Linked DNA regions of Homo sapiens. The protein of the gene in region 1 purifies or fractionates together with the protein of each later gene. This does not show direct contact. Each region holds a gene or a part of one and is shown on either strand. Other genes may lie near its edges.

Region 1 (3,550 bases):
ACTCCCAGTGGGACTCTGGAAATATGAAGGAACTAGGGAGTGGAAGAGATTTCAGAGCTGGGGAGAGGAGTTCCTCCCTTCAAAGCCAGCAACTGCCTTTGGGGAATGTCGGGGGGTATCTCCTTTCTCCTGCTTGTGTGAGGTGGTACACAGTCCCCCCTTCACCTGGCGGGAAGCCTGTCCCGGACAGACTCATCTCAGCTTTCCCTTGGGGCAGGATCGGGGGCAGCAGCTCCAGCAGAAACAGCAGGATCTGGAGCAGGAAGGCCTCGAGGCCACACAGGGGCTGCTGGCCGGCGAGTGGGCCCCACCCCTCTGGGAGCTGGGCAGCCTCTTCCAGGCCTTCGTGAAGAGGGAGAGCCAGGCTTATGCGTAAGCTTCATAGCTTCTGCTGGCCTGGGGTGGACCCAGGACCCCTGGGGCCTGGGTGCCCTGAGTGGTGGTAAAGTGGAGCAATCCCTTCACGCTCCTTGGCCATGTTCTGAGCGGCCAGCTTGGCCTTTGCCTTAATAAATGTGCTTTATTTTCTCTTCAGTGAACTTTATCCCAGGACCAGTGGGGGTGGGAGAGCCAAGTGAGGCCCAAAGGCAGCTGTGGGCTGGCTGCGGGGCCTGTGGTTGTGTACTCATTCCTATGAGTGGGTGAGTGATGGGGACTGGGCAGGAGGACAGGGAGGGGACAGGAGCTGGCTGCTGTTGGGGATGACTAGGACCACAGCTCCTTGGTCCTTGGCTTGGACCGGGGAAGGGCACTCGCTAGGGGTGGCAGTGAGATGGCATGCCTCTTCCATGAGGTGGTGCCCGCTTCCTGCCCAAGTGGGAGCCAGGAAGCCAGCGGGGGCCTGAGGCATGCCTGCCCTGTGGGTAGCTCCCGAAAGATTCCAGACTCGCTCTTTAGAATCAGGTGGCTCACTGAGCTCTGTATTTTGTTTCCTGGAGCTTTCACTGGTTTCTTCCCCTGAGATACCCCAAGTGACATGAAAAGCATACTCAGGGCCTAGAGACACTTTACTGGGGATGGGCTTCTGTCACAGGTCAGAGGTCTGAGAAGAGGGGCAGGCCCCACTCCTCTCCACTAGTAGAGAAAGGTTGACAGAGAATCATTTCTTGCTTCTCTTGGCCGTAGTTTTGGTTGTGCTGGGGGCCTCAGCCACAGAGGCCTTGGGGGCTGTGGCTGCTCGTGCCCCCTTCCTTCCCCAGAAAGAGCTTTGGTGGCCCCTGGGAATCAGACTGCATGGTTTCTTGGTGGGAGAGGAGGCCTGGGGTGAGGAGACGGCCTCAGGGACTGTCTCCTCCCCTTGCGCAGGAGTGGCAGAAGGGCTGCTGTCCCCAGCCATGGGCACCCCAGGTAGCAGGGGCAGGTCGGTGAGGGTGGGCTGCATCTCCATCCTCAGCAGGTGCTCTGTCAGGGCCGTCTGTTGCCGGTGCTCCCTGTGCCTGCTCAGCTCCTGCTCCAGCTCCTTGAGGAAGCCTGGGAGGGGCCGGGGGTGGAGGGTACAGGGTGGGTGGAGCCCTGGGCTCAGCAGGAGGGTCCCTGGGCTCAGGGAAGTCTCTGGCTGGCCCCTTGTCCCTTGTGGGAAGGAGCCTGAGGCTGGGGCCCAGGACTGACACCTGGCTCTGGCCCAGATGTTGATCTGAACTTGGGGCTCCCCTCCCCGGACGCCACTGCCACCTTAGCTTCCCTCATGTCCCACAGGGCAGAGGTGGGCTCTGGGGAGGCTGAAAACCTTGGAAAGCAGGGTCACCTCGTTCTGAGCAGAATGGGCCACTCAGCTCTGGGAACTCCTCATCGCTTGAGGCTTCATCCTCCTCATCCGAAATCCAGCGCTCCACCACAGGCTGCCCGTCCAGGTCCAGGAGAAGTGGCAGGGCTTCTGTCACCAGCTCGCTGCAGAGCAGAAGGAGCAGAGGTTACCCAGGAGGGCACCCTGGCGTGGAGGATGCAAAGACACGCACCACAGCACTCACACCCGGAGGGGTGGTGGCTCATGAGCTAGGTAGGAGGTGGGGGAGAAGGTGTCATGGACAGGACCCCAGGTTTGCAGGCTGAGAGGGGTCTGGGCTGAGTTAGCAGGTAGAGCTCAGCCATGACCTTTCTTCCCACCCTCCACTCCTTACCGGTAGCCATCCTGGTTGGTGCAGCTGTTTCCAGACAGGTTGAGGATGAGAAGGCTCTGGGGGAACTCATCTGCACACAGCAAAGAGAGAGGAAATGGGGTTCTCACTTGATCTTAGCCAAAAGACCATGAAGCGATGGGAATGGGGTTCTCATACCCACTTTCTAGTCCAAAGCCAGTACCTCTAGGCACAACCCCTTGAACTCCCTGAGGATGAAATGTGGACCTGCAGGGGCATGGCTAATAGAAGCATGGGCAGATGGGTGCAGAGGGGAGGGCAGGCCCCACAGGGGATGTGTTTGGTGAGCCAGGGCGAGTGGGTTCCTACCCAGCTTCAATGTTTCTATCAGGTTCTCAGAAAGGTCCAGAAACTGGAGGCATGGGAGGTCGAGGAGGTTTTCCACCTGCCTGATTTGGTTTCCTGCCAGAGACAGGAAGCTGTAGGGGAAGGAAGGGGTACAGAGGCAGAGCTGAATCATGGAACAGCTGGAAGAAAAGAGGAGGGCACCTGACACCGGGGCCCCTGGGCTAGGCAGCTGATGACCAGTGGGGACACATGGCCTTCTGGGGTGAGGGAGTAGATCTAGGCTTGCTGGTCCTTGACTGACAAGGACCCAGGCTTGGAGAAATCTGAACCAGTTCTTTGGGATATGGCTAGGTTCCCCCAACCCCTCTTCCCCTGCCTGAGCCCTGGCACCACATACCGCAAGGAGGGGATGCAAGCCAGGTTCTCAATTTGCTGGATCTTATTCTGCAAGAAGAAACCGAAGTGGGGAAACCAAGCTGAGATCAGATGCGTCAGGGGCCCTTTACGGGGACAAAGCCCCAAGACCATGTCTACTCTGCAGCTGGAGATCTGGCACTTTGGGAATGATCACCCCACTCCTTGAACAGGTTGCCACTACCTTAAGAAAGATGATTTTCTTTCCCCATGTGGATGGTTAAGGGTGTAAACCTGGGGTATCTAAACCTGACTACGTATACTCTTCTGATTCCACAACCAAAGAGTGACCTGGGAATCAGAAAAGGAAACTAAGAAGCCACCAGGAAAACGGAAAGGGCCTTGGTGGTGGCTTGCATACACAGAGAGAACAATGAGCATACAGGAACTTGACGGTTAAAGTTTCTATGGGGAAAGTTGAAGCGAGCTGGGAATACTCAACCAGGGGAAGGCTGAAGATCAACCAACCACCACCACCACCACCAAACAGCCTTCAAGTAGGATCTGAATGATGTACAGGAATCTTCATAGTTTCCTCTTCTTCAAAACAGGAAATGGGCTGGAGCTATTTAACGTGAAAGATTTAGAGTAGATGCCAAAAAGAACTTCTAGATCAAGAGAAGTGCCTAAAGAACAGTGGAAGGAGCACAGGTCATGTTCAGGATCTATTTTGAGGGAATTAGTTTTTCAATTCAGGACCCTATGTCATTCGT
Region 2 (3,673 bases), 2.7 Mb from region 1:
GAGGCACTGTGCTGAGCTTGCATCAGACCTGATCCTGCTTAATCCTCAGGCATCCCTGTGCGGGAGGTGCTGTCCTCATGTCACATTACAGACGGGAAGCTCAAGGCGGAGGGGTGAAATCACCGCCCAAGGCCACATGCCTGCCTGCTGCCAGAGCCTAGTTTTCCATGATGGCTCCCAGTGAATACTTTTTGTTGTTGCTGTTGTTGTTAGTTGTTTATGAGACAGGGTCTCATTCTGTCACCCAGGCTGGAGTGCAGTGGCATGATCATGGCTCACTGCAACCTCAAATTCCTGACCTCAAGTGATCCTCCCACCTCAGTCTCCCAAGTAGCTGGGACTCAGGAGACTGGGAGACTGGGTACCACCACATCCAGCTAATTTTGTTTCTGTTTTTTGTAGAGTTGGGGTCTCACTGTGTTGTCCAGGCTGGTCTTGAACTCCTGGGCTAAAAGAATCCTCCTGCCTTGGATTCCCAAAGTGCTGGGATTACAGGTGTAAGCCACCATTCTTGGCTAGCCTGATGAATACTAATGAACAATTTTGTCACTGTCCCAGGCGCTTTTCGCATATTATCTCATGTAATGCTCACACTAATATGAGGTAGGTGGTACCAGTAGCCTTCTCTTACAGATGAGGAAACTAAGACTCAGAGAGATTTGGTAACTTGCCTAGGGTTCAAAGCTGGGAAGTAGCTGAGAGAAAATTTGAACCCAGGCAGTGTGGCCCAGAGTCCGTGCTTGTCACACAGTGACTGATAGAGAAGCTGATACCTGCAGGGGGCCTCCTGGCCGCTCCTCTCCCATGGGGGCCCTGCCAGCCCCCAGGAGCGTCCTCACAGGGCTGCCAAATAAAATACAGAACACCCGGTTAAGTTTGGAATTCCGCTAAATGCGGAATATGGAATGTATTTATACTAAAAAATTATTCTTTATCTGAATTTCACATTTAACGGGTGTCCTGGATTTTCTCTGGCCACCCTGTGTCCCCACAGCCCCGTGTGTGCCTGTGCCCTGATGCTCCGCCCCTGCCCCTCATCCTCCCCATGGGCAGAGGCCTGAGTGGGCAGAATCCTGCCCCCTTGCCTCCCCAGCCTACACACACTACCAAGTGCCCCTGAGCGAGAGGGCTCGGCCCATGGCCTGCCTGGGATGTCTTCCGCAGGGTGAGTGGGACTGCTGTGGGTGACTTGGCAGGTGAGGGTCTTCAGAACAACCCCCAGCCCTGGCAGGTGCCTGGCCTGGGTGGTGGGTAAGCTGGGTGGCCCTCCAGTCTAAGCAGGGGCATGCCAGGTGGGACTAGGGGGCTGGCTCTGCCAGGCCCTGTGGTCCCCCTCACATCTTTCCCTGTCCCCTACCCTGACTTCCGCACCCAACCAGGTTTCATGCCTGTTCTGGCCCCAGAGAAAAGGGTGCTGCCACCCCCACTTGCTGTGTCCCACCCGGGGCCAAGGGAAGCACCGCCTGCCTTTCCTGACTTTGTTGATTCTCCAAGGAATGTTATGGACTCTGGCACCGAGCCCCCGCCAGGCTCCAGCCCTGGGTGTGGCAGCCAGCTGGGTCACGGGGGACATGCTTGGTGCCTGAGGTGTGGAGGCTGCCTGCTGGCTAAAGGATTAGGGTGGGAGGGTCTTTGGGACCCCTCGCCATTGTGTGTCCTCTCCTAGAGCCTCACAGCCCCGGCCACCTGGAAACGCTCTTTCTCTACTCCCTGCTCGGCCTTGGCCACAGCTGCTGGCTGTAGCAGTTCCCTGCATGACTCGCATTCCTGTGGAGCCCTGTGTGCACCTCCCGAGTGCGAGCCGCCTATTTCCCCCTGGCTGGCCCACCTTCCACCCTCTCCACCCATGAACCCTGTACGCACACACACACTCACACGCACACACTCACACACATTCACTCACACTCATACACACACACTGTCTCACGCACACACACACTCCCCACCTATGCATACACCCCACACACACCCTGCCCTGCCTGCATGCCACCCCTCCGGGACACGCCTGGACAGAACTCCCACCCTCCCTGCCAGCTGCCCTGGCGCCTGTCTCCACTGCACAGCCTCTATATCCATCCCTGCCTGGGGGCGACCTGCACTATCTTCAGCACACAGGGCTTGTCCTCTCTGAGCTCAGTGGTGCACCTGTGAAAAGGGTGGGATTTGGGGCCCCTTCCAGCTCTGACATGAGGTAGTTTCTGGTCCCTGGTCTTGGCTACCCTTACAGAACTGCTCAGGCCCCAGACCATCCACGCCCCAAACCGCCCGGGCTGCAGGTGGAAGTTGAGAAACTGGGCCTGCCCTTTCCTCAGCACGCCTGACCCCTCTCTGAGGCTGAGATAAGCGGGCAGCTTGGGAAGGTGTCTGAGCCCCAGCTGACAACACTGAATTGGGCGGGAGGTGCCGCTGTCCTGGTCTGGGGAAGGTACCCCCTGGAGGCCATGGGACTAAGGGGACAGATGGATCAGAACACGTGGGTGCCTCTTTCCACCCGGGGCACTAACTCACTTCCCCAGAGCCCTGCCTCAGTTTCCTTCTTTGTGATCATTTACTGAGCACCCACTATGGGCCAGGCCTAAACCAGGCTCCATGTGCTTGTGCCTGTTGTGGCCACACACAGCCCTTTGGGGTCAGACTCCCCCAACTTCCACCACATTTCAGCCCCACCGGGTGCCGACCTGGCTGTCTGCTTCTTTAACAGCATTTTTGAGATATTCATTCACATACCTTATAATTTATCCATTGAAAGTACACAGTGCGGAGCACTTTGGGAGGCAGAGGCTGTTGAATCACTTGAGGCCAGGAGTTTGAGACCAGCCTGGGCATCATAGTGTGACCCCAACTCTACAAAAAAATTTAAAAATTATTCAGGCCTGGTAGTGCAAGTCTGTAGTCCCAGCTCCTCGGGAGGCTGAGGTAGGTGGATTGTTTGAGCCCAAGAGTTTGAGGCTGCTGCAGTGAGCCATTATTGTGCCACTGCACCCCAGCCTGGCTACAGAGCAAGACCCTGTCTCAGAAAAAAAAAAAAAGTATACAATGGTTTCCAGCATATTATATCATTAAACTTTAAAAATTATGGTAAAATAGGCCGGGTGCTGTGGCTCACGCCTGTAATCCTAGCACTTTGGGAGGCCGAGGCGAGTGGATCACTTGAAGTCAGGAGTTCGAGACCAGCCTGGCCAACATGGTGAAACCCCATCTCTACTAAAAATACAACAATTAGCCGGAAATCACTTGAACCCGGGAGGTGGGGGTTGCAGTGAGCTGAGATCGTGCCACTGCACTCCAGCCTGGGCAACAGAACGAGATGCTGTCTCAAAAAAAAAAAAAAAAAAAAAAAATAGGCTGGGCGCAGTGGCTCATGCCTGTAATCCCAGCACTTTGGGAGGCTGAGGTGGGCGGATCATGAGGTCAGGATATCAAGACCATCCTGGCTAACACGGTGAAACCCCGTCTCTACTAAAAAATACAAAAAAAATTAGCCAGGTGTGGTGGCGGGCACCTGCAGTCCTAGCTACTCAGGAGGCTGAGGCAGGAGAATGGCGTGAACCCAGGAGGCGGAGCTTGCAGTGAGCCAAGTTCGTGCTACTGCACTCCAGCCTGGGCAACAGAGCGAGACTCCATCTCAAAAAAAAAAAAAAAATATGGTAAAATATATATAATGAAATTGGCC

Evidence for each region.
Region 2: the proteins of LRRC46 (region 1) and PLCD3 purify together in Homo sapiens (affinity purification with mass spectrometry; 4 studies listed by BioGRID and IntAct, with this or other methods). This does not show direct contact.

Annotation. Positions count from the first base shown.
Region 1 is NC_000017.11:47,834,670-47,838,219, reverse strand, and holds the end of LRRC46 (leucine-rich repeat-containing protein 46), read right to left. Parts: intron 2,868-3,550; coding exon 2,821-2,867; intron 2,555-2,820; coding exon 2,445-2,554; intron 2,188-2,444; coding exon 2,118-2,187; intron 1,888-2,117; coding exon 1,745-1,887; intron 1,471-1,744; coding exon 1,100-1,470; 3' UTR 501-1,099; downstream 1-500. Other genes in the region: SCRN2 (secernin-2), read left to right, coding at 218-376. UniProt on the Homo sapiens protein: Required for normal spermatogenesis and male fertility. Plays an important role in sperm flagellum biogenesis.
Region 2 is NC_000017.11:45,126,016-45,129,688, reverse strand, and holds part of PLCD3 (1-phosphatidylinositol 4,5-bisphosphate phosphodiesterase delta-3), read left to right. Parts: intron 1-3,673. UniProt on the Homo sapiens protein: Hydrolyzes the phosphatidylinositol 4,5-bisphosphate (PIP2) to generate 2 second messenger molecules diacylglycerol (DAG) and inositol 1,4,5-trisphosphate (IP3).